Linked DNA regions of Homo sapiens: region 1 is linked to region 2. Evidence: fine-mapped expression QTL. A gene starts in region 2. The other region holds a variant in brackets. All regions are shown on one strand. Distances are from middle to middle.

Region 1 (9,352 bases), 29 kb after region 2:
CCCTGATGGCCTATGCAGCATATCACCCCTACTTCAAGGTTTTGTTTAGGTGGCACTGTGTTTAAATAGCAAACACAAAAATCTTTGCGTCAGTTGCCATCCATAGAAATCAGGAGGTTTCTCATAAAAATCCAGATTTCTCACTTTTCTTGGGAAAAAGAAATAAAAAAAATTGGCAACTGTCAGCCTGCATGGCAACAAGAGAGCTGCTGAGCGGCAGGCACCCATCTAGATGTGGGCTCTCCGCACCACTGTCTCCGCCTGCTTCACTCAGGCCACTGCTGCAGCCAGGCTGGCTGGCAGTCTCCGGAAATAGCATGGGCCATCTTTCTTGACCACTATAACAACCCTGTGAGGTGGGTAAGATCCTTGTTACCAAGAGGGCAACCTGCCCCTAGTGTGTCTGGAGAGTCGAACCTTAATTTCAGGTCCTTGGACATTGGTGATCTTCCTTTGGCACCATGTTGCCCAGTACTTTGCTGGGGTTGGGGAAAGGACGCAAACAGGAATTGGTGGTAGTTGGAGCAAACCCTCCCATACACACCATGTGGCCAGGAACCCATTCTTAGGGCTTTATACCAGATCCCATTTAATTGTCAGATCTCCACAGAGTAGGTGCTATTAGTAACCCCATTTGACAGATAGGGAAACTGCATCTAAGAGGTTAAATACCTTGCTCAAAGCTACACAGCTTACCAGTTGTAGAGGTGAGATTTGAACCCCGGCAGTCGGGCTCTAGAGTGCTAACAACTGCACTGCCTATCAAGGGGTTTATATCACCCAAGGCTCCCTCACTGGGGGCTGTTCATGCCCCTGCAAACCCCCTCTGAACCAGTGATTCTGGTCTTAAATCTCGTGGCAGCTTAAATCTCTCCTGAGACTTTGCCACACTGTTTTTCTGAGTCCCATGAGGTTGAGTGGGTCTCTGTTCTCCTAACTTGTGTCTTGTAGAAGGCCCTCACATCTGTTAGATCTGTGCTGACCACTATGGTAGCCACTGGGAACTGTGGCTATATTATAAATTTAAATTAATTATAATTGTAAAAATAAAAATTCTGCTTCTTAGTTGCACTAGCCTTGTTTTAAGTGCTCAACAGCCACATGTGGCTAGTGGCTACTGTATCAGGTGGTGCAGACACAGAACATTTCCAGTTGTAGAAATTCCTGTTAGGGCTGCTTTGGATGGTGTGAGACTGAGTCAGGACCTCTGGGTTTGGGTTTCAGCTTTTACCAGCTGTTACCTTGTGATCCAACAGCCTATAGGGAGGCAAGTCAGAGCTTAGCACACAATAAGTGCTCAATATATGGTGTTCTCATCATCAGTGCCATCTTTTTGGGTAAAGTATTAGTTTAAGAAGACCCCCCCAGGAGATTGAGACGATCCTGGCTAACACGGTGAAACTCCATCTCTACTAAAAGTACAAAAAAAATTAGCCGGGCGTGGCGGCGGGTGTCTGTAGTCCCAGCTACTCGGGAGGCTGAGGCAGGAGAATGGCGTGAAGCGGGGAGGCGGAGCTTGCAGTGAGCCGAGATCGTGCCACTGCACTCCAACCTGGGCGACAGAGCGAGACTCCATCTCAAAAAGAAAAAAAAAAAAAGAAGACCCCCATATTATCTATTGATATTTAAAATTACCCCCAAACTTAGGGGCTTATAACAACATAAATATTATCTCACATTGTTTCTGTGAGTCAGAAGTCAGGAGCATTAGCTGGGCGATTCTGGCTCCATCTTGTGAGGTTGCAGTCGACGTTGGCCAGGTCTTGCTGTCATCTGAAAGCTTGACTGGGCTGGAGGATCCACTTCCAAGATGGCTCAGTTACATTTCTGACAACTTGGTGCTGGCTATTTTGGCAGGAGGCCTCAGTTCCTCATTGCGTGGACCCACATAGAGCTGATTGACAGTCCTCGTGATGCGGCAGCTGGTTTCTCTCAGAACAAGCGATCCAAGAGAGCCACCAAGTGGAAGCTACAGTGACTTTTATGACTTAGCTTGGAAGTCACCCACTATCTCTTCCATAATATTGCATGGGTCACATGGGTCAGCCCTATTCATTGTGACAGGAGACCACCCAGGGGCAGGAGCACCTGGATACAAGACTCATTGGAAGCCATCCTAAATGCTGGCAGACATAGCCCCATCAGTGGTCAACCTCGACTAGGGCTTTATCTGTCTGGAGAGCCAACTCTGGTTATTTCTGATAATATATAATATTTCTGAGAATTGGGCAGTGGATGCAAAATGGATTTTGGACACTATTGGTCCACTTTTTGTTTTTTAATTTTTTGAGGTGGAGTCTCACTCTGTCGCCCAGGCTGGAGTGCCATGGTATGATCTCAGCTCACTGCTATCTCTGCCTCCCAGGTTCAAGTGATTCTCCTGCCTCAGCCTCCCAAGTAGCTGAGATTACAGGCATGTGCCACAATGCCTGGCTAATTTTTGTATTTTTAGTAGAGACAGGGTTTCACCATGTTGTCCAGGCTGGTCTCAAACTCCTGATCTCATGCGATCCGCCCACCTCGGCCTCCCAAAGTGTTGGGATTACAGGCATGAGCCACCACACCCGGCCAAAATGTAGGCACAGGTTTAACTAGTTTTCTGTTTGTTTCCAACCTCGATTAAACTCACTAAATTTAGGGGGAAAATCTCGTGTTTTGGCCCGGTCTCAAACTGGTGACCTTTCATGTGTGAGGCGAATGTGATAACCACTACATTACAGAAGCCAGGCATGGGCCCACTTTTTGTTCATGATCTTGCCAATCTTCAGAGGTAGCAAAACCATGGGACAATGCCTGCATGGGGTGTGGGAAGGCCTACAAGTGAAACACATCTCCCCTACTTATGATTTGCTATGTTGTTTGGGGAGTAGACAGAATTCTAAGATGGCCTGCAAGATTTCTGCCCTATATATACAACCTGTATAATTCTCTCTCCTTGAGGACCTGTAAATATGATGGGATGCCACAAGGTTTATGATTAGTTTACATTAGATAGCAAAGGTGAAAGTGCCCATCTGGTGGCAAGCAGCCAGCTGTAGTGGGGGTTTATCACTTTGCCCTCTAAATGCATTATTGTGCCACTGCTACCCTGCCTGCCTTTGTCCCTTAGGGTCTGGAACAGGGCCAAGCCTGTCTAGGAGGCTGTTCTGAGCTGGTCTGTGGCAAAACCTTATAGATGGTTTTGTTTGTTTGTTTTTCTTTTTTTAGACAGTCTCGCTCTGTTGCCCAGGCTGGAGTGCAGTGGCACAATCTCGGCTCACTGCAACCTCTGCCTCCTAGGTGCAAGCGATTCTTGTGCCTCAGCCACCCAAGTAGCTGGGACTACAGGTGCACGCCACCACGTCTGGCTACATTTTGTATTTTTTATTTTTTGAGACAGAGTCTTGTTGTCACCCAAGCTGGAGTGCAGTGGCGTGATCTCAGCTCACTGCAACTTTCGCCTCCTGGGTTCAAGCGATTCTTCTGTCCCAGTCTCCCAAGTAGCTGGGATTACAGGTGTGAGCCACCGTGCCCAGCCTATTTTTGTATTTTTAGTAGAGACGGGGTTTTACCATGTTGGCCAGGCTGGTCTGGAACTCCTGACCTCAAGTGATCTGAAGTGATCTGCCTGGCTCGGCCTCCCAAAGTGCTAGGATTACAAGTGTGAGCCACCATGCCTGGCCACAACCTTATAGATGTATTATGGGTTTCACTTCCCTTAAAACCACTTCCTCTTTCCCTTGCCATCTTCACAGGTCTGTGCCCTACCCAGGGGGAAGCTGTCAGAGAATTTTACCTATGCTGTGGTTATAACTTAATAGAAGTTAAAAAAAAAAAAGAAAGAAAGAAAGAGAGAGAAACCCCAAGGTCGGTACTTACTGGGGAACTAGCTTGTTAATAATGGTGGAACACCAGGCAGCATGAGAGCTGGTAAATTGGAGATTTGGGCCTTATCCTCACTACATGCCCCATCCCCACCCTCTGCAACACACATGTCACCTACACACAGCAGCGTGGTAGAATGAGAATGAAGAGAAACTCAGAGCCCCAGATTTAGTGGTAGGAGTGCAGGATTTGAATCAATTGTAGGCTTTGCCATCTGCTGTGACCTTAGCCTCCTCTCTTGGAGCCTCAGTTTCCCCATCTATAAAATGAGGAGGAAATACTGACTAGGGCCATGATTCTTAACCCTGGCTGCTCACTAGATTCACATGGGAGGGTTTCAAACAATACAGATGCCTGAGCTCCACACTCAGAGATGTTAATAGAATTGTTCCATGGCGTGGCCGGTATATTATTAGTATTATTTTTTTTTTTGAGACGGAGTTTCACTCTGCTGGAGAGACCCTAGGCTGGAGTGCAGTGGCGTGATCTCAG[T/C]TCGCTGCAGCCTCTGCCTCCTGGGTTCAAGCAATTCTCCTGCCTCAGCCTCCTGAGTAGCTGGGATTACAGGCACACGCCACCACGCCTGGCTAATGTTTTGAATTTTTAGTAGAGACAGGGTTTCACCATGTTGGCCAGGCTGGTCTCAAACTCCTGACCTCAGGTGATCCACCCACCTCGACCTCCCAAAGTGCTGGGATTACAGGCGTGAGCCACTGCGCCCGGCCCGGTATATTAATTTTTATAGCGTGGCAAATGATTCTAATATAAAGAGGACTAAATTAATCCATAAATGGGTTTTAGTGTTAGGAAATTCCCTGGAAGTATGTAGAATTCTGTGCATAAACCCCCAAAGGGTCTCCCTCTGTCACCCAGGCTGGAGTGTAGTGGCACAATCACAGCTCACTGCAGCTTCCACTACCTGTGCTCCAGTGATCCTCCCTCCTCAGCATCCCCCCGCCCCCACCCCATAGCTGGGACTACAGGCGTGCACCACCACACCGGCTAATTATTATTATTATTTTTTTATTTTTTTGAGACGGAGTCTCACTCTGTCCCCCAGGCTGGAGTGCAGTGGCACGATCTCGGCTCACTGCAAGCTCCGCCTCCCGGGTTCACGCCATTCTCCTGCCTCAGCCTCCCAAGTAGCTGGGACTACAGTCGCCCGCCACCACGCCTGGCTAATTTTTTGTATTTTTTGGTAGAGACGGGGTTTCACCGGGTTAGCCAGGTTGGTCTCTTATCTCCTGACCTCGTGATCCGCCCGCCTCGGCCTCCCAAAGTGCTGGGATTACAGGCGTGAGCCACTGCGCCCGGCCCTATTTTTACATTTTTTTGTAGAGATGGGGGAGGGGGTCTTGTTATGTTGCCCAGGGTGGTCTCGAACTCCTGGGCTTAAGTGATCCTTGCGCCTCGGCCTACCAAAGGGCTGGGATTAAGGCCCGGTTTTTAAATATAAATAAAATGAGAACTTAATGCTCGGGTGGAGAACAGTGCCACCTGCCGGTTTCACTTTGCATTAGCAATATCTAAATATCTGCCAATGCCATATAATGCAATTCACTGTTTATTGAGCACCAACTCAACATGCGAGGCATTGTGATGCACCCTTTAGGACATGCAGAGATAAGAGCTCCTTTCCCCATGAAGATGGCAGCCTAGAGGAGACAATGGGCATGTAGGTAAAACCTTTGATCCAAAGCAGGCAGTCGATATGGTCCCATTGAGGGTCTGTGGGAATACAAGAAAAAAGCCTGGGGCCAGGGCTGGCTTCGTGGTTGTGCAGCCTGTGCTTGGAAGGCCCCTGCACTTGGTTTCATCATTTCCTGTGGCTGTCTTGAAGTTCTTTTTTTTTTTTTAATCCCGTGTTCAGTCGAATTGAAATTCTTGAATAATTTTTGAACAACGGGCCATTTTGCACTGGGGCCCACAAATTATATAGCTAGTTCTACCTAGAGTAGTTTGGGAAATTTTGGAAGAGGCGACACAGGACCTGGCAGGGCAGTAGTGGAGGGAGAGGAAAACAGGAGGCATATGGTAGTGTGGAAGTGGGGGTGGGATCCTTAGGCCTGGGTGACTGGGTGGTGTGGGGGAAGGAGCTAGAGGTGGTGCTGCAAGGCAGGTGGAGAGGGAAAGGAGTTTGATGTTAGATGGCTTCAGACTCAGTGCAAGGAAGACCTCCAAGGACAGTTTCAGCAGCTGGAACTCAGAAGCTAGGCCAGGGCTGGAGCTTTGGTCACAGACTTCCAGATGGATACCTTGGGGACACCAAAGGTTATAGGATCCCCTGAGATGGGTGAGGACTAAGACAGAGCTGTATGGCTGGGTCTGGGCTTTTGGTCCAACCTAGATTATTGGCTTCTGGGACTCCTGCCTTGAGGAGTGGTGGAGGAAGACTTTGGGGGCAGGGCTGGACGATGAGCGCTTGAGCCCCAATTCCCCATGTGGTGCGCTATGACACTCTTCTCAGCCTCCTCCCTCCTGGCTGCCTGCTTCAACACCACCATGGACGGTGAGTCAGGCGCTCATTTCAGGGACATTTCCCATTCAACTCATTTGCTGCCTTCCTCAGCCAAGATTCACCTTCAGGGGCCACAGGCTTCTTCCTCACCCCTCACAGTGGGTTGCAGCCTGCTGATGGCAGATGGCAGAACTTAGTCAAGACTTTGGGAAGGCTAAAGAACATACCCCATTTCCTCTCCTCTGCGTATTGTTCGTTTCTTTTTTCTCATGGGACTTTCCATACCCTGGGGGAGGAGTTTTACAAGAAATGAGCTCTTCCTTAGGAGGGCAAGCTCTTCTCCAGAGGGTTAGAACCTAGAACCCACATTTCAGACCAGTTTTCCCATCAGGCACCACCAGAGGCTGGTGCAGGTAGCTGGCACCCATGATACTTATCTGTGTCCTTGATTCCAATAGCCCAAGCCAGTGTTCTGCCTGGTTTTTTTTTCCTTCCCTATAAAGCACAGACTGGGTAGAGTGGTACCTAGGGTGGGTAGGCTGGTGGGGAATAGATTGTGATTCTGTCCATCAGCCCCATGCAGAGAGGCCCCCCTCTCAACTACATTACTGCCCAGTCAATCCCAGGAGTTCTGCCCAGGGCTATCCTGGGAAAGCTTTGTTTTGAAAGGGTCCCGTGGTCACCTCTGGGCCTGGGGTGCACCCTTGCTTGGGATGGAGAGATAGCTAGTAGGGTAACAACCCCAGGGCAGGGACAGGGACTCAGGATGCCAGCTGCCTCTGCACCCTGTTCCTCCTCTAGAAAACGTCCAAAAGGTAGGCTCTCTGCTCCATCAGACTTGTGGTTCTTTTCTTTCTGTGCAGGTCCCCTCTTTTGTGTGTTGGTGCGAGGGTTGGGGGAGGCACACTTGGGGAGGTGGCTCATACAGACCAAACTCTGCCTTGGATAGGATTGATTTTAATGCAGCTGTAGAATCCCTGATCCTCAGGACTGCGTCCTGCTGGGCCTGTGGGAGAAGTGACTGGGGGGGACAGTTAAGGCGGCAAGACCTCATCACTGTCCAGGCACCTGCCCAGCCACCAAATCTGTGGACCAGGGAGCAAACACAGGCAAAGGTACTATGCCTGGCTGCAGTCAGAGAGAGTCTCGGGAGGAGCAGGTCTTTGTGCTCTAGGGCAGGACACAGTGCTCTAGGTGGGAACTGGTGCCCCAGGTGGGACCGAATTCCCCAGGTGAGACTTAGAGAGACCCGGTGCTCCAGGTGGATCTAATATTCCAGGAAGGACCTGGTGCTCCAGGGTCCTGATGCCCCAAGAGCTTGCCCCCTATGCCTGGATGTGTGAAGCTGTGTGTTTTCTCTTCAAGAGGGGACACAGATGCCTGGAGGGTAAATGTCCCAAACTTGGCTCCTCGGGGCATGTAAAATTGTGTGTGAGAGGCAGGGAGAGCTGAAGAGAGAAAAGGACAGAAGGATAGGGACACGCACATAGGTCTGTAGACTAAGTACTGAGGGGGAAGGGAGAGAGAGAGAGGTTTAGAGACAGAGTGAGAAGAAATGAAGACAGGGAGAGCCATACACGACGGACACAAAGACAGCACCACTCAGGTCTTGTCTTCCTGTATGTGTAAGGACAAGGGAGGGAGTGAGCCGGGTAAGACCCACCAGGCCCGGTTTCTAGGGTGAGCCTTCAGCTGCCCTTCTGCAGCAAAGGGGCAAGGAAGCAGGGCCTAGAACCCAGAAACACGTCCCCGCGCCTGGCGCGGGCGCAGCCCTCCAGGGTGGGCAGCCGGGGCTACCGGGCGCGCCTAAGTCTGGATGAAGAGGTGGAAGTTGGTGCGCGTGAACTCCTGATGGATGCTCTCCAGGAGCGCGTCGGCGTCGGTGGCGGGCTCGGGGACGCCGGGGTGACCCGGCCGCACGCTGTATTCCGGGGTGTAGGTGAAGGAGAAGGCACTAGGGTAGAAGAGCCCGTCGGCGCGCACCAGGCTCATGGGGATTGTGATGGGAGCGCGCAGCCAGCGCCAGTCGCTGCAGAAGGCCGCCACGTCCGGCACCACGCACACCAGGGACCGCGGGCTCCTGGGGGTGGAGCACCAGGGTGAGGGCTGCGGCGACTCCGACGACGCGTGCACCCCCTTCCCCTGCTCCCCGGGGCCCAAGAGAGGCTGCCTCACCACCCCGTACCTGTACATGGTTTCTGCCTCCACGTCCCCAAACCACACCTTGAGCCCCGCGTGGAAGTTCTCTCCGTGGAGCTCCAGCGTGGCCACGTCGCCCCCGCCGCTCAGCTGGGGGAGGGTGGGACCAGGTGAGGTGAGAGAACCAAGTAGGGCGGGAACCCGCTGCCCCCCACTCACTAGCACCACCACTGCCCAGTGCAGGCAGGGTCCCCCTGCCCAACGCCCCTAGCGCCCGGCTTCACCTCTAGGGTGCTGATGAGAGGCACCGGAGTGACCGGCTCCAGGGTACACGCCAGGCTGGTGCTGAAGGAAAATTCCACCGACTCGGTGCCGATGATGGTCCAGCAAGAGCTGTCGTTAAGCAGAGCCCTGTTCGCCTCCTTGGGGCAGGGAGAGGCCTGGGAGGAGACCCAAGGGGACGAGGCCGAAGCTTCTCATGGTGGCCACCAGTGTAGGGAGCCAGCATGGCGCGTGGGCTTCTGCGTTAGACCGAACTGGATACTAATCCTAGGCTCTGGGGTTCACTTGTCCCCTCAGCTTGGACAGTGCCCTTAAGTTCTCTCACTTAGCGTTAAGAAAGCTTGTTGAGCTAGCTGATTTCTTCTTTCTTCTTTCTTCTTTCTTTTTTCTTTATTTTCCTTCCTTCCTTCCTTTTCTTTTTCTTTCCCTTTCTCTCTCTTTTTTCCTTTCTTTCTTTTTCTTTCTTTCCTTCCTTCCTTTTCTTTCTTTCCCTTTCTCTTTTTCTTTTCTTTCTCTTTCTTTTCTTTCTTTCTTTCTTTTTCTTTCTCTCTCTCTCTTTCTCTCTTCTTCCTTCCTTCCTTCCTTTCTTCCTTTTTTTTTTTTTGAGACTGA
Region 2 (9,352 bases):
ATGTCCTAGATCATTTCCTTTTGCTTGAAAGGAAGCTAGGGGGAGGATGTAAAGTGTTTGACCAATGCCATCTCTCAGACTCACTCAATCTCAGGTTAGAATATACAGAAAGAGTGCTGGACCCAACATAGGTGAGTATATGTTATGTGTTCACCACTTCACCTTATTCCATTCTCCTAATTAGTTCAAGAGGGAATTATCTCCATTGTAGGGAGGAGCAAAGGGACTCACAAACTTTCCTCCAGTTGGCAAGTCCTGGAAACAGGATTTTAATGAAGAACTTCTGGCTGTAAACACTGTGGGTTTTGTTTGGTTGTTTGGGTTTTTGTACCTCAGCCCCATGCAGGAAATTAGGAACTCCTATTCAGTATTACAAACCTTTGACTACTGCATTTTGTTTTTTGGAGGCCAAAGAAGAACCCAATAAAACTTCTCAAAGAATCTCAGGTTTTGGACAAATTATTTTTAACTCTTTGGGGGTCAGGATCACCCAAAAGGAGGATCCCCCAAACATCCTCTTTTTGTGGATATAAAGAAAGAATCTGAAGTTTCTTGCCCCAAAATAATGTATGCAGAGACACATAACCTAGAGGAGTACTGACCATGCATGTGTCCTCTGCCCCCAGTCATGGAGCCCAGGTTAAAGACCCATACATCCACAAATAATTATATTCAAACATGTTGCATCCCTTTAGAGATTCTCAGAACTTGGGGAAGGGGAAATTATTTCCTTAATTCCAGGAGGTTAAGATAGTTTTATAGAAGAACTTCCATTAACTCTCTAAACGAGCTGTTTTCAGTTTTTGTTTTTGTTTTTTTGCTAGTGTACTCTGTAAATGATTATTTTAAGACTAGGTACTCCTTGACATAATTTTTAGTTGATAGCTTAACATTTTTCATCAAAAGTTTAAATAGTTGCAAAGGTTGTAATTTCTGGCATATTGTAAATTTATACACGTAAAAGTAAAACAATTACATCACTCTTTTAAATGTATCCAGTTAAATTAAATGCCCTAGCAATTCGATACCTACAATCATCCATTTAAAAAATACATGAACAAGCTCTTTTCTAAGAGTCAGACATTTTGCATCATTTCTTTTTCTATTTGAAGTCAAATTTCTACTCCATGTTCCACCACAAAATTTTATCATAATGTGTTTTTTTTTAATGCGTCAGAGGCTTACTGATGACTCTTTTAAAAAGTCCTGCAATAATTTAAACAGCTTCATTAAGGTACAACTGGCATAAAATAAGCTATACATATTTAAAGTATACAATTGACATAAATATATGCTTGCTGTGTTAGGCTGTTTGCGTTACTATAAATATATGAGATTGGGTAATTTATAAAGAAAAGAGGTTTAATTGGCTTACAGTTCTGCAGGCTATACAAGCATGGCTCCAGCATTTGCTTCTGGCGAGGGGCTCAGGAAACTTCCAATCATGGCGGAAGGTAATGGGGTAGCAGACATCTCACATGGCATCATCAGGACCAAGAGACAGGGAAGGTGGAGTTCCCAGACTCTTAAACAACCAGATCCAGCGTGAACTGAGAGTGAGAATTCATTTATCACCAAGTGGATAATGCTAAACTATTCATGAGGGATCTGCCCCAGGATCCAGTCACCTCCAGGCCCCACCTCCAACATTAGGAATCACATTTCAACATGAGATTTGGAGGGGACAAACATCCAAATCACATCACTCTCTAAACCAGTCCTACAAACTTTGATAAATAATTATTAAGTAGAAAAAGTAAAGTTGTTTTAGAAATACCTGTCTTAATTAGGTGGCTGTGGCAATTTTTCTCTCCAATTAGCTCACTAAAACCTCCATGAGATTGGGTATAGTCGCTCATGCCTGTAATACCAGCACTTTGGAAGGCCGAGGCACGCGGGTCACTTGAAGTCAGGAGTTTGAGACAAGCCTGGCCAATGTGGCGAAACCCCATCTCTACTAAAAATACTAAAATTAGCTAGGCATGGTGATGTGCACCTGTAATTCCAGCTACTTGGGAGGCTGAGGCACAAGAATCACTTGAACTCAGGAGGCTAAGGTTGCAGTGAGCAGAGGTTGTGCCACTGCACTCCAGCCTGGGTGATGGAGTGAGACTTTGTCAAAAACAAACAAACAAACAAACACCTCAACGAATATTGCTAGAATGAAACAGGTTTTAGCAATAATTTTATTCCTATTTTTCATTTTTTATAGCTGTCAAACCATGGTGTGGTAAAGCCATCTTGTAGTGGTTCATGAAAGTCAATTTTTAGAAATTTTGTGGCTGGGTGCCATGTAATCCCAGCACTTTGGGAAGCTAAGTTGAGAGGACTGCTTGAGCCCAGGCCTTCAAACCCAGCCTGGGCAACATAGTAAGACTGTGTCTCTACCAAAATAATAATAATAATAATAATAATAACAATAACAATAATAATAATAATTAGCTGTGCGTGGTGGCGTATGTCTAGTCCCAACTACTCAGGAGGCTGAGGTGGGAGGATCTCGTGAGCCTGGGAGGTTGAGGCTGCAATCAGCCATAATTTTGCCACTGCACTCCAGCCTGGGCTACAGAGAGAGATCCTGTTTTTTTTTTGTTGCTTTTTTTTTTATGTCATTAGCCAGTTGTTAAACATAACTATTACTAAAAATTAATTTATATGAACATACAATTATATTAAAAAAAAAGGAGGCCGGGTACAGTTGCTCACACCTGTAATCCCAGCACTTTGAGAGGCTGAGGCGGGTAGATCACGAGGTCAGGATATCGAGACCATCCTGGCCAACATGGTGAAACCCTGTCTCTACTGAAAATACAAAAATTAGCCGGGCATGGTGGTGTGTGCCTGTAGTCCCAGCTACTCTGGAGGCTGAGGAGAATCGCTTGAACTTGGGAGGCGGAGGTTGCAGTGAGCCGAGATTGCGTCACCGCACTCCAGCCTGGGTGACAAATTGAGACTCCGTCTCAAAAAAACAAAAACAAAAACAAAACCATAAAGGAAATAAATACTCAAAACTCATCACTTACTAATTATCTCACTACACTTTACTGTTATCCATGCTTTTGAGATTATTTGCACCTATTGTATCTGTGTGGTAGAAATATATCTTCCCAGCTCCATGTTCAGTGACATCTCATTGGTAGCTTGAAATCAGCCATGCTGGTAGTATTTACACTACAGAAATTGGCAAATTAGCACTCGCCACTTCCCCTAGCCAATTGTCAAACATTTACTGGCACACCACTGGCTGTAAGTGCTGAGAAACTTATAAAAGTTGGTAGGAACAGAAGAACTCTTGTTACAACAGTGTGACAATAGATAACTAAAATCACAGTTACCTATTCTATATTTAATGATCTATCTACTGACAACTAGATTAGGCCCCCCTGCAATTTTGTGGAAAGCAAAGATTGCAAACCATTTAACTTGCAAAAGGATTTCTTATTCTGGCATGAGATTTCTTCATTTTCTCAGTTTTGTTCCAAATCCTAGGGAAGCATGTTAAAAACCACTGAAAGTCATTGCTTACCTTTAAATCTGTGGAAACCCCGTGGTCAGCATTTGAAGTTTGCTTTACTGCCAAGGTTCTCTGCCACAAGAGACTTTTATTCTTTGATAATAATTAAGAGGTGGAAAAAGGGAAGTCACTACCAATTCTCCACTCCACAAAGTATATGAATTCATAATATGCCAACAGTGGCCAAAATGTCCTACTTCTAAGGCTATGTTACACCCTTAGAAAGATTTATACATAAGTCAGGGAGAGACAGGGTTAGGCTTCTTTTGTACTTCGATCATCGTAGAATGCCCACCTTCACACCCTGCAATAATTCCAACAGTACGTGTGCTTGGGGACCCAGAGAATTTTACAGTCTCCATATAGCACCCCCCTCCACTTCTTCCCTCAACCTGCTCCCACCAATGCACTGTTAGGAGGATGAAGGGTAAGGAGGACACACAACTTTCTCTTATAAAGGGTGGAAGCTTACCCTAAGAATGGAAATAAACTTGCAGACCAGTTCTCAGAGAGATCAAACTTTTGAAAAAGTTCAAAATCTGGTAGATGAAGCCCTTAGAACAGACGTCAGCCACTCTGAGACCAGCGTCAGAGTGGTCTCAGAGTGGCTGAGGCCCACCGCCTATTTTTGTTCAGCCCACTGCTAAGAATGGTTTTTGCATTTTTATTTTTTATTTTTTTGAGACGGAGTTTTGCTCTGTTGCCCAGGCTGGAGTGCAGTGGGGAGATCTCAGTTCACTGCAACCTCCGCCCCTCGGGTTCAAACGATTCTCCTGCCTCAGCCTCCAGAGCAGTTGGGATTACAGGCGCAGGCAACCATGCCTGGATAATTTTTGTATTTTGTAGAGACGGGGTTTCAGCATGTTGGCCAGGCTGGTCTCAAACTCCTGAGCTCAAGTGATCCGCCGCCTCAGCCTCCCAAAGTGCTGGGATTACAGGCATGACTCACTGCATCCGGCCTGCATTTTTATTATAAAATGTCATTTATTTATTTATTTATTTATTTATTTATTTATTTATTTATTTTTGAGACAGGGTCTCACTCGGTCACCCAGGCTGGAGTGCAGTGAGCGATCATGGCTCACTGCAACTTTCACCTCTCTGGCTCAAGCAGTCCTCCCACCTCAGCCTCCAGAGTAGCTGGGCCACAGGGGTGCACCACAATGCCTGGTTAATTTCTTTAAAAACTTTTTGTAGAGATGGGGGTCTCATTATGGTTGCCCAGGCTGGTCTCCAATTCCTGGGCTCAAGGGATCCTCCTATTCCTCGGCCTCCCAAAGTGCTGGGATTACAGGCGTGAGCCATAGAGCCCAGCCGATTTTTGCATGTTTAAATGGTTGGGAATAAAGTCAAAAGAATAATAATATTTCGTGACACATGAAAATTATATTAAATTCAAATGTCGGTGTCTATAAATAATGTTTTATTAGGACCTAGCTGCCCTCATTCCTTTAGTATTTATGGCTGCTTTTGAGCTACGACGCTCGAGTTTGAATAGTTGCCACAGGGATCGTATGGCCCGCAAAACCTAAAATATTTAGCCCTTTACAGAATAGTTTGCTGTCCCCTGTCTTAACACGGTTCACATCCCATTTGGGAAGTTCTGTGTCTTCAGAGGGGAGCACACCCGGTATGAAGGCTGGTCTAAACTCAACACCCTAGGGAAGTCCTTCCCGTCCCTGGGCCTTAGTTTCCCCAACTATAAAATGGGGTTAGCCGCAGTGATCTCTGGGGACCTGCCTGGCAGTGGGTCAAATAAATAAAGGGAGTTGGAGCTCCCGGAGGGTAGGACTAGGGGTTGAGTAGGAGCCGGCGGGCTCGGGCAGGGCGGGTCCCTTGGGGTTTCCAACTCCGCGGGCGGGCGCAGTGCCCCGCAGGCCTCGCTTCCACTGGGGAATTCCGGGCGGGGTGCGGGCGGCGGGGCGGGGGCGGGCCGGGGCGGGGCCGGTAGGCCGCCTATAAGATGGGTGGCGCGCCCGCCCGGGGCCACTCGCCGCAGCCTGCGCGCCTTCTCCAGTCCGCGGTGCCATGGCCCCCGCCCGTCTGTTCGCGCTGCTGCTGTTCTTCGTAGGCGGAGTCGCCGAGTCGGTGGGTGCTTGGAGGTTCCCGGGCTGGGGGCGAAGCGGGGGCGCAGGCCGGTGCCTCCTTTGTTCGTCGGAGCGTGGGATGGGGGGGGGCAGATCGGGGGTACGCTACCCCCAACCGGACACCGAGGCCCGGGAAACTTTGTTGGAAACTTTGCTCCGGGGTCACGGGCCAGCCTCCGGGATGGCTTCACGCGCCGTGCGCCCCTCGCCTGTTGCTCTTCCCGCCTCCCCGGGCCTCAGCCCCGCCGCGGGCTACGGGCTCGTTAGTGACTAAGCCGGTGTCAACTCTTCAACTCCCACACCCTCGTCCCTTCCCTGGTGACCCTGGGGCAGGCTTGGAGCGCTGAATCCCCTCCTCGCTCTCGGGGCGCCCAGAGCAGACAGCTTTAGGATCCGAGATGGCCCTGGGGGTCGGGGGGCTGCGTGTACTCGGAAGGGGGAGGGTTTTAGGGTTGTGCGAGGCCCTCTTTCACACACCAAGGAGAACTGAGCCCTAACCTCAGTTCTGGCCCCAGCTCTGTCATTGACTTGTGACTTAGGGCAAAGTCCTGCCCTTCTGAATCTCTTCCCAATACTGCACCAAGGGTCTGAGGGAATGGGGCAAGAGGGGACACTGCGTTAGGGTTTCTAGAAAGTTGGGGACTCTGCTCTTTTCGAGGACAGAGGAGAGGAATGGTTTAGACTCAACACTTAGCCAGGAGCTGAGCCTCTGCTTTCTGCAAGAAGTGTGTTCATTTTTTCTCAATTGCAGATAAGAAAATTGAAGCATCCACCTTGAGTGAGGTGAAGGGGGTAGGGGGGAGAGAAGGCCTCAATCAGCCCAGGGAAACCTTTCCTTCTCACTGTCCACTGGCCTCCGTCATAGCTGTCCCTGGGCCAGCAGAAGCTCTATCCATGCCCGCAGCCGGCTTAGGAGGAGGGGGGCAATCTCATCTGGGAAGTTGGGGGGCATGGGAATTACTGGTGAAGGCAATCTGTCCCCCACAGCCTGAGCTTTGTGCCCCCTTTGTGCCCTTTAGCCCCAGTTTTCAGAGCGAGTGAGTCCTTGCAGTTTAACCATTAATGTTAATTTCTTTGAAAGCCTTGGGGCTCCTGTTCCTCTGAATTTACTTAGCGGAAGGTTGATTCTGCCTGCAGGCTCTTCTTGAGGAATGAATGAGACCCTAGGCAATACTTCCAGCACAATTCCAGGCATGCCATGATGATTGCAAACGTGGAGCGCCTTTGTCGGGGGGCCAGACATTGCTCTAATAACTTTCTAATGGGTATATCCAGGAGCTTAATTCCAACAACAATCTTACTGTGTACTGTTCTTAAACTGGTCCTGAGGCTAGAGAGGTTAAGTAACTTGCCCAGGGTCACACAGTTAATACACAATAAATGGGTGAGTCAGATTGAAATTTAGGCAGCCAGGCTTTCAAGTTTCTGCTTTAGCTTAACTTCTACTCTTTGTGCTACTCCAGGTGTCCCATCGTTGGTAACTAAAGACGGGTTTAGAATAGGTTGAGATTTTAGGCTGGAAGGCAAAGGAATTCTGAGGTGGAAGGAAACAAGGCCAGAGTGAGGTGATGACTTAACCTAAACCAAAGGCTACCTTGCCTAAAATGTTAGTGGCTGAGGACCCAAGCCTTCTGCCTCTAGCACAGTGCTCTAAACTAGGCCCTGAAGGATGTGTCGGGTCAAGCAACTGGGGAAGCATCCGAAGGGATACCACCTAGGCAGTACAGGGAAAAAGAGGAAAGGACCCAGGAGGTTGCTGAGGTCACCGTGTGCCCAGTCACATGCCAGTTTCCTCCCAGGGGCTGCTGAGCCTTCAGGTGCTTCAGGGTGCTGAGCAGTCAGCTGTGTCCTGGGGGCATTCTGAAGGATGTAGTTTGGGGGAAGGGGACTGTGTCAGTCCTGCCTGGGTGACCCATCAGCTGCAGGAGACATCAGCCCTGGGCAGCTGCTTCCTGAGATAGGTGTCAAGTCTCATCCTGACCTCAGCTCTCCCCTTCCTGGCTAATGTCACAGACCTCCTGCCTGTAACTGGGGCACAGGGCTTCCCCTTTGGCCTGTCCCCTCCCTCTTTTCTAGATTGTGGTTGGAAAAATCAGACATAGTCACGGTTGGCTCGGACTGAAGAGATGATCCAGCGTGTCCTTTTCTTTTTGCAGGTAGAGAAAAGTGAGGCCCAGGGAGAAGGACTTTGCTAATAGCAGTTAGGAGTGATAGAGTACTTTTTATATGACAGATCTGGTGCATTTTGTCCTCACAAAAAGACCTGTCACATGGGGATTCTATTATGCCCACTTCCCAAATGTGAGAGGTAAAATGGTACTACTTTGGGTTAGTAGAGGGCATCCAGGACCCCAGGATCTCTGACTAGTAGCCCTCCCATTGTGGGTGGTGTTCCCCCGACTGTTCCATCATTCCCCTTACCACCCCCATATTTTGGAAGGGAACCCAGGCTCAGTACCCAGCTGTCCTCTCCTCTGTTTGGCTGGGCTTGCTATACTAAACCAGTTCTTCCTGTCCAGCTGGGAGCATTCCCTGATCTGCCTTCCTGCCACTCCCTCTCAGGCCAATTAAAGGCAGCCTTGTTTTGGGAGTCCCCTCCACCCAAAGGTGTTCCTACCCAGGGGCACAGCCTACTGACTTGGCCCCGGGCCCAGGCGGTTGTGGGGAAGTGTCCCCCACCTATCACCTATCAAGTGTACTTTAGCTTAAGGACATTTCTGGTCTTCTACAGCGTCCTCTTCTTGATTACATGGGAGTAGGGGTGGGGGCGGAAGCCTAGGGGCTTCTAGGACCCTTGAGTGAACAGTGAGAGCTCTTGGGACTTCTTGAGCCCAGGGAGTTATCAAACACCCACGAAAATATTTGGGCCATGATTTGGAGGGTTCCATGAGGTTGGGGGGAGGCCTCTTTCCCCGCTGGGCTGACATCCCCCACCTTAAAATGAAAGGTTTGAACAGGGTAGCCTCCAGAGTCCTTTCCATCTCTCAATTTGATTAATAACTTAAGTACCTACTATTCAAAAGAGGTCTCTCTCTTGAAGGAATTAACTTGAGGGAATTAACATACTCCACCAAATGCTGAATCCCTCCCTCTCTCCCCCCGCACACTGAGGGCAGGAACTCTGCTCTATTTGTTTTTGTGAAATACCTGTCCCCTAGTTTGTACTCAGGAAATGCTTGTATGAATGAATAAATTCGTGCATGTAACTTTATTCTAAATGGTTCATTACTGTTATTTATTGCTAGTATGAGTATCTCCCAGTACTGCGAGGTACCATTTTCTCTATTTTTACAGGAAATTGATGCTCGGAACAATGCAGTGGCTTCCTAAGGTCAGAACCAGGTCCTTCTGATAGGGCAAGGTGTCTGGTTTGAGTGTCCTCAGAATATTCCAGATGAGGAAATTTGCTGGGTTTGAAGGTAGATACCTTAGGTCCTACTTCTGCGTTGCTGGGTGACCTTGAGCAAACATGCCCTGTCTCTGGGTCTCAGTGTCCCCAACTCTAAAATAAGGAGGCTGGACCATTGCCTTCCAAGGGTCCTTCCTGCCCAGAGAGCCCATTGATGAGGGGAGGGGCCCTTTGCTGGCCTCCTTGGTGAAGAGTCTAAACAAATCCCAGTCTCAGAAGAGAAGTTGGGGTGGCGGGGGGACATTCAGCTCCTGCCATCCCCAGCTCCTAGAAACAGAGGGCTTTTCCAAGGACTTGGAGTGCTGAGCCTGCCTGAATGAGGAGCTGGGGAAGCCAGGCTGG

Alleles and levels. Positions count from the first base shown, and alleles are read on the strand shown. Sizes are in standard deviations (SD) of each study's normalised expression.
For the expression in esophagus mucosa of the gene that starts at base 5,503 in region 2, T is the low allele of the variant in region 1 and C is the other (small effect, 0.19 SD a copy in GTEx).

What was found.
Region 1: its variant is fine-mapped to the expression of SDC4 in esophagus mucosa (GTEx, PIP above 0.99).

The regions. Positions count from the first base shown.
Region 1 is chr20:45,315,733-45,325,084 of GRCh38, reverse strand. RBPJL (recombination signal binding protein for immunoglobulin kappa J region like) reads right to left here. Exons shown (of 12, transcript NM_014276.4): 10 at 8,743-8,898; 11 at 8,505-8,608; 12 at 7,261-8,399. The coding sequence ends at 8,126. It also overlaps the pseudogene TRV-CAC14-1. Among named protein-coding and RNA genes, the nearest start is that of MATN4, 12 kb to the right of the region's middle. RefSeq lists an enhancer at 3,755-3,804. The variant T/C (reference allele first, on the strand shown) is at 4,357.
Region 2 is chr20:45,344,575-45,353,926 of GRCh38, reverse strand. SDC4 (syndecan 4) reads left to right here and starts at 5,503. Exons shown (of 5, transcript NM_002999.4): 1 at 5,503-5,602. The coding sequence starts at 5,543.